2 linked regions of the Homo sapiens genome follow. The protein of the gene in region 1 purifies or fractionates together with the protein of each later gene. This does not show direct contact. Each region holds a gene or a part of one and is shown on either strand. Other genes may lie near its edges.

Region 1 (3,821 bases):
ACCCTGTCCCAAAAATAATAATAAGAAGAAAAATAAGCATATGTACTGTAAAATAAAGCTTATTTTACCCTAAAGCCATGTTGCTGGTCCATAATTTTAATTGTTTGAATATGTTCTTTTGTGATTATATTAATTCCATTTCCCTCCTATTTTATAAACCTGAAGTCAACTATATTGTCTTCTCTATATTGTAGGCTTTATTGTAAGGCTTTGCAGAGGGTGCATAGGAAGCATGTAAAAACTTTAGTTAATAATAACAATAGTTACTAATTATTGCTGTGAGCTAGATCCTTGGTAAGTACTGTGTAAGTGGTATAAAAATCATTTTTCACAGCATCTGTATGTATGTATGCATTATCTCTACAGGGAAATGAGGCAGTTTAATTAGAAAGCAAAGTAACTTTTTTACTATTGCCCAGCTAGGAAGTAGTTTGAACTCAGAACCAAAGCCTACATTCTTAAACACTATGTAAATACATATTGCCTCTGTGTAAGTGCAAGAAATGAAAGGTAAAAATTATGTGAACAAATAAAGCATCAGGATAGCATTGGAATTTTATATATTTTCTACCTTCTTTGAGATTATTAGCTTTCCATTAGGAGATGGGTGCTTAGAATTATAGCTCAAAGAGACATCCTTCACTCTTGCTATTTCCTACTGGCTCCAGTAAAATAGTTGGAAACTGATGCTGTTTGTCTTAAATGAAACAATATATTTGATAATATCTGAAAATTCTTTGTAAAATTGTAAAGTACCACACAGTTGTGAGATACTGTTAGAAAATGGGTTTGTCAGCGACCTGTGAGTCTTGTCATGTGTGCTGTTGTTGGCAGATAAACTGCTCAGGCATCTTATACTGACCTCCCTCAAGAGCCTTTCCTGATGTAGTTGTTGCCTGGTTGGTAACAATAAATCCTGTTTATAGGCTCCGCTGGGCCATGATACAGGCTACAGAGCTATAGTGTTAGGGTGACATTTAAGACACCTAATTACTCCTCTGAAACTGGGCCCATATCTTGATACTACTTCCCTTCTTTCCCTCCCAAGCTCGCAGTGTCACGTTCAGATCATGAATGATATCTGTGTCTAATGTAAAGTGGTGACAGTCACAAGGAACCGTCTGATGTAACTTTTATCTAAGGAACATGGGGAAAATGCGGGCAAAAACTTTGTTCTTCAAAATAGATGATGGGAAAATTCACTAACTGCAATTTCTTTCTCTAAATACACCTGGCAAACCTGAAACAGCCCCGTAACACCCAGCCTATCTTTCCCACATTTCTTAAACTGAGAATTATCACATTGGGACATTCATATGTATAAAAAACACAAAATGGTTATGCTTTCTAATATTCACTAAGTGGCCTAAGTCCTTACCTAAAGAAGTTCATGCCCATCCCAAATGCTTTCAGATAGGTTGCCATCCCCATCTGCTTTTCCACCCTGTTCTTACAATTCCAGAACATCTTCGTGTTGCATATATACACTTGCTTTGACTTCTAGTAAAAATAGCAATTAATTTATCTAGATTGTTTATATGTTATTTTATACACCCTCATGACCCCAAGCCCCACCAGAAGCCCTACTAGGTGCTTCCAAATTTAAACAACTTTTTTTCCAAAAAATAAAATATAGCAGTTACTGAACTGTAGGGAATCTTCTATCTTATCATATCCTCAAGAGGTGAGGCATTTGAAGACTCTATGCTTTATTATCTGTTAAGAATGGACACAAAGTGAAAATAAAATATTGGGTCAAGTTTTAAGTTGACATAAAGTATTCAGAAATCTTGTGTGTTCTCATTTTAGCATGCTCCTTTTGATGCAATGATTATGGTGAACATCAGTTATTATGTGGATGAGAAAATTTTTCAGAATGAAGGAAGATGGAAGGTATGTTTGAATAAATATTTCATCTTTTTTCTCCTAATAGTTCTATAGATAAAATATTTTTAAGTCTTCCCTATTTTCAGGGTTCAGAGAAGGTACGAGATATACCACTTCCAGAAGAGCTCATTTTCATTGTGGATGAGAAAGTTTTAAATGACATCAACCAAGCTAAAGCCCAGTATCTCAGGGAGGTATATTTTTCACTTTTCTCTTAAATAATAATGATTTTTTCTTTTAACAACCATATGTAAAAATTTGGCTGTCATCCAAGCATGTCTGCACAAAACATTTTAAAATTATGCCTTTAACACCTTTAATTCTTTATGTCTGGTGATTACTTTAATGCAGGTGATAATTTGCTTCTCTTTGGTGTATTCTCCTTAGGTGATTTTTCACCGTTCTCATTTAATTCTTCTTGTTAGGCATCTGATCTACAGATTGCGGCTTATGCCTTTACATCTTTTGGCAAAAAGCTAACCAAGAACAAGATGCTTCACCCGGATACGTTTATTCAGCTTGCACTTCAGCTGGCCTATTACAGACTTCATGGACAGTAAGGACCATTCAGTTTCTATTTTCACAGTCTTGAAGTCCAAGGGTATATCTTTTTTTATAGCTATTTCATCCTAACTCCTCAGTATTTTTGCTCACTTTTTTCCCAGCTGGTACTGTGTCCTATTTGTACTTCCATCAATAGAGTATTAGATTTCTGATCTGTGGTGGTTTCACAGTTTTTCCTTGTTACTTTATCACAGTATCCACTTGATAACTTTTGACGTGTCTATTCTCATCTGAAAGAGGATTGGTCATCTTTGGCATTCAGATCGCTTGGTTTTCTTGCAACGTCAGTTTTCTGATGGGTTCATGAAAAGTTGTGATTTTATAAATTATCCAGCCTTTACTCATTTTTAGAATAGGAGCGACATTAATTTTGTGACTTAATACATCCTAAGAAGAAGTAGAAGTCCCTCAATGTTGCTTTTTCATTGATAAATAAGTTATAATTGAACATATTTATCAGGTACATGTGATTTTTTTGATACATGCATAAAATGTGTAATGGTCAAATCACGGTAATTGGGATGTCCACTGCCTCAACCATTTATTACGTCTTCGTGTGGGGAATGTTCCAAGTCTTCTCTTCTTGGTATTTTGAAATATACAACAAATTATTGTTAACTATAGTCAACCTACTGTGCTATCGAACACTAGAAGTTATTCCATCTAACTGTACCATTATACCCATTAGCTAACTTCTCTTCAATCTCCTCTCCCCCCTACTCATCCCAATCTCTGTTAACCACCATTTTACTGTCTACTTCCACGAGATCAATTTTTTTTAACTCCCATATATAGGTGAGAACCTGCAGTATTTGTCTTTCTATTTCTGGATTATTTCACTTAACAAAAAGTTATCCAGCCTTACCCATGTTGCTGCAAATGAAGGGATTTCATTCTTTGTTTTTTTATTTTGGCTGAGTAATATTCCATTGTGTATGTATATCACTTTTTTTTTTTTTTTTGAGTCAGAGTCTTGCTCTGTCGCCCAGGTTGGAGTGCAGTGGCATGGTCTTGGTTCCCTGCAACCTCTACCTCCTGGGTTCAAGCAATTCTCCCTGCCTCAGCCTCCTGAGTAGCTGGGATTACAGGTGCCTGCCACCATGCCTGGCTAATTTTTATAGTTTTAGTAGAGATGGGGTTTCGTCGTGTTGGCCAGGCTGGTCTCTAACTCCTGAGCTCAGGTGATCTGCGTGCCTTGGCCTCCCAAAGTGCTGGGATTAGAGGTGTGAGCCACCACGCCCGGCCCACATTTTCTTTATCCATACATCTGCTGGACACTTAGGTTGATTCTATATCTTGACTATTGTGAATAGTGCTGCAATAAACATTGGAGTGTGGCTATCTCTTTGATATATTGATTTCCTTTCTCT
Region 2 (3,821 bases), on another chromosome or scaffold:
ACATTCTAGATTTGTTTATTTTTATTTATTTATTTTAGAAACAGAGTCTTGCTCTGTCACTCAGGCTGGAGTACAGTGGCATGATCTTGGCTCACTGCAACCTCTGCCCTCCGGGTTCAAGTGATTCTCCTGCCTCAGACTCCCAAGTAGCTGGGATTACAGGTGCCTGCCACCATGGCTGGCTAATTTTGTATTTTTAGTACAGATGGGGTTTCACCACGTTGGCCAGGCTGGTCTCAAACTCTTGACCTCAGGTTATCCATCTGCCTCGGCCTCCCAAAGTGCTGAGATTATAGGTGTGAGCCACTGTGCCCAGACTTCTTTCTTTTTTTTTTGAGAGAGAGTCTCGCCCTGTCGCCCAGGCTGGAGAGCAGTGGCACAGTCTTGGCTCACTGCAAGCTCTGCCTCTGGGGTTCACACCATTCTCCTGCCTCAGCCTCCTGAGTAGCTGGGACTACAGGCGCCCACCACTACGCCCAGCTAATTTTTTGTATTTTTAGTAGAGACGGGGTTTCACTGTGTTAGCCAGGATGGTCTCTATCTGCTGACCTCGTGATCCTCCCGCCTTGGCCTCCCAAAGTGCTGGGATTACAGGCGTGAGCCACTGCGCCTGGCCGCCTTCTTTTTTTTATTTTGAGACAGTTTCGCTAGGTCACCTAGGCTGGAGTTCTGACTCCAGGCACGAGCCACCGTGCCTGGCCACACCCAGCTAATTTTCTAAAAATTTTTTTTGTAGGCCAAACATGGTGGCTCATGCCTGTAATCCCAGCACTTTAGCAGGCCGAGGTGGGTGGATCACGAGGTCAGGAGATAGAGACCATCCTGGCCAACATGGTGAAACCCCATCTCTACTAAACATAGAAAAATTAGCCAGGTGTGGTGGCATGTGCCTGTCGTCCCAGCTACTCAGGAGGCTGAGGCAGGAGAATCACTTGAACCCGGGAGGTGGAGGTTGCAGTGAGCCAAGATCGTGCCACTGCACTCCAGCCTGGGCGATAGAGCAAGACTCTGTCTCAAAACAAAACAAACAAAAAAAAACAAACAAATTTTTTTTTTTTTTGTAAAGACAGTGTCTTGCTATGTTGCCCAAGCTGGTCTAGAACTCCAAGTCTCAAGCAATCCTCCTGCCTCGTCCCCTCAAAGTGATGGGATTACAGGTGTGAGCCACTAGGCCAGGACTGAATTTGTTTAATTGCCTAATTTATTTATCTTCATTAGCAGAATAAAAACCCAGAATGTTTATGGCTATTGACTCTGGGGCTTATTCTGTTAATTATTTTTTGTTACTAATTTTTTCTACACTAGTTTGTTTTACAGTTAATATTATTTAAGTAATTTTAAAAGTGTTGTTGGCCGGACATGATGGCTCATACCTGTAATCTCAGCACTTTGGGAGCCTAAGGTGGGTGGATCATTGTAAGGTTAGGAGTTCGAGACCAGCCTGACCAACATGATGAAACCCAGTCTCTACTAAAAATACAAAAATATTAGCTGGGCATGGTGGTGCACACCTGTAATCCCAGCTACTCAGGAGGCTGAGGCAGGAGAATTGCTTGAACCCGGGAGGGGGAGGTTGCAGTGAGCCGAGATTGCACCACTGTACTCCAGCCTGGGCGACAGAATGAGATTCTGTCTCAAAAAAAAAAAAGTGTTAGAGGTTTGGTTGAGTTTTATGGATCTCTGAAACAAATGTGACCTTATGAAAATCAAGTCTGCATACAGTGTCCTAATGCCAACTTGAGGCCAGTTCTGAAAAGTAAATAATACAGTGAAACTTATTGGGAGATAATCATTTAAAATTTTGCAATTTGTATTCGAATTAGAAGGGTAGAGAATTCTGAATTTTTTTTTTTTTTTTTTTTTTGAGACAGAGTCTCAGTCTGTCTCCGGGCTGGAGTGCAGTGGCGCGATCTCGGCTCACTGCAACCTCCGCCTCCTGGGTTCAAGCGATTCTCCTGCCCCAGCCTCCCAAATAGCTGAGATTACATGAGCCCACCACCACACCCAGCTAATTTTTGTATTTTTAGTAGAGATGGGGTTTCGCCATGTTGGCCAGGCTGGTCTCGAACTCCTGACCTCAGGTGATCCGCCTGCCTCAGCCTTCCAAAATGCTGGGATTACAGGCATGAGCCACCGTGCCCGGCCCTTTTAGTTATTTTTAAATGTACAATATATTGTTGACTGTAGTCACCACATTGTGCTATCAAATGCTAGATCTTACTTATTTTAATTGTATTTTTGTACCCATTACCTTTTCAGCATTTTTGTCTGTTTTTATGTCCATTAAATGCTATAGTGATATCCTAACCTTTCCTTAATATATTAATGCAAACAGCAAAACATTTGCATTAAAATATATAATAGGTTTAGAATTTCTCAGAGAGAAGAGCTGGCTTTGCCTTTGAAATACCCATGGAGGCCGGGCACGGTGGCTCATGCCTGTAATCCCAGCACTTTGGGAGGCCGAGGCAGGTGGATCACCAGGTCAGGAGTTCAAGACCAGCCTGGCCAAGAGAGTGAAACCCACCTCTACTAAAAATACAAAAAAAAAAAAAATTAGCCAGGTGCAGTGGCAGGTGCCTGTAATCCTAGATACTTGGGAGGCTGAGGCAGGAGAATCGCTTGAACCTGGGCGGCAGAGGTTGCAGTGAGTCGAGATCATGCCATTGCACTCCAGCCTGGGCAACAGAGTGAGACTCTGTCTCAAAAAAAAAAAAAAAAAAAAAGAAAGAAAGAAATACCCACACATGGAAAACATCTTGGGGTCTCCACAGTGGAAAGAGGCCAGAAGATCAGTGAGCAGATTGTCATTGGCACCCCTGGGACTGTGCTGGACTGGTGCTCCAAGCTCAAGTTCATTGATCCCAAGAAAATCAAGGTGTTTGTTCTGGATGAGGCTGATGTCATGATAGCCACTCAGGGCCACCAAGATCAGAGCATCCGCATCCAGAGGTAGGGATCTCGAGGGTGGGGGACTCCTCAGATTCCCCATCTGCAGTGTCTTCTCCCTTCACTTCAGATGCCTCCTCTGGCTTCTGCCTGGGTCTTGGCTCTCGTACTCTCAGCAGCATTTGTTTGACGGGCCACTTCCGTGTCAGCGCTGGCCACAGTCCCTCCCAGCCTGGGTTGAGAAAGGAGACCTAGGGACTCTCCCCCAACCCCTGTCCCCATCCCAGGCCTGCTGCTCCTCCTCCCCAAGACGCTCCTCTCCCATCAGCCTTCCTGGGCATCTAGACCCTCCCAGCTGGGAAGGCTGTGCTTCTGTCGCTTCCCGGGGCCACCTGGGGCCACCTACCAGGGCCTTCCCTTGCAGGATGCTGCCCAGGAACTGCCAGATGCTGCTTTTCTCCGCCACCTTTGAAGACTCTGTGTGGAAGTTTGCCCAGAAAGTGGTCCCAGACCCAAACGTTATCAAACTGAAGCGTGAGGAAGAGACCCTGGACACCATCAAGCAGTACTATGTCCTGTGCAGCAGCAGAGACGAGAAGTTCCAGGCCTTGTGTAACCTCTACGGGGCCATCACCATTGCTCAAGCCATGATCTTCTGCCATGTGAGTAGCAGTGGCAGTGGCAGGCCTGGCCCTTCCCTCTCAGCCAGCTCCCCACAGGGCTCAGGAGGACTGGATGCCCCTGGGTGCCATGGGAAGAAACGAAGTGGTTTGTTCTCCTAAGGTTTTAGTGAGTCGTAAGAGGGAGACTTTGATTCCACTTCTTAGTGATTACTTGGAGAAAACCCCAAGTAACAGCCAATGAAATAATTTTTAGATTTTTAAGAATATAAGCTGGGCGGCTGGCACGGTGGCTCATGCCTGTAATCCCTG

The links.
Region 2: the proteins of CROT (region 1) and DDX19B purify together in Homo sapiens (affinity purification with mass spectrometry; one large-scale study listed by BioGRID and IntAct). This does not show direct contact.

What each region holds. Positions count from the first base shown.
Region 1 is NC_000007.14:87,380,101-87,383,921, forward strand, and holds part of CROT (peroxisomal carnitine O-octanoyltransferase), read left to right. Parts: intron 1-1,809; coding exon 1,810-1,893; intron 1,894-1,973; coding exon 1,974-2,081; intron 2,082-2,312; coding exon 2,313-2,443; intron 2,444-3,821. UniProt on the Homo sapiens protein: Beta-oxidation of fatty acids. The highest activity concerns the C6 to C10 chain length substrate. Converts the end product of pristanic acid beta oxidation, 4,8-dimethylnonanoyl-CoA, to its corresponding carnitine ester.
Region 2 is NC_000016.10:70,326,518-70,330,338, forward strand, and holds part of DDX19B (ATP-dependent RNA helicase DDX19B), read left to right. Parts: intron 1-2,774; coding exon 2,775-2,952; intron 2,953-3,313; coding exon 3,314-3,551; intron 3,552-3,821. UniProt on the Homo sapiens protein: ATP-dependent RNA helicase involved in mRNA export from the nucleus.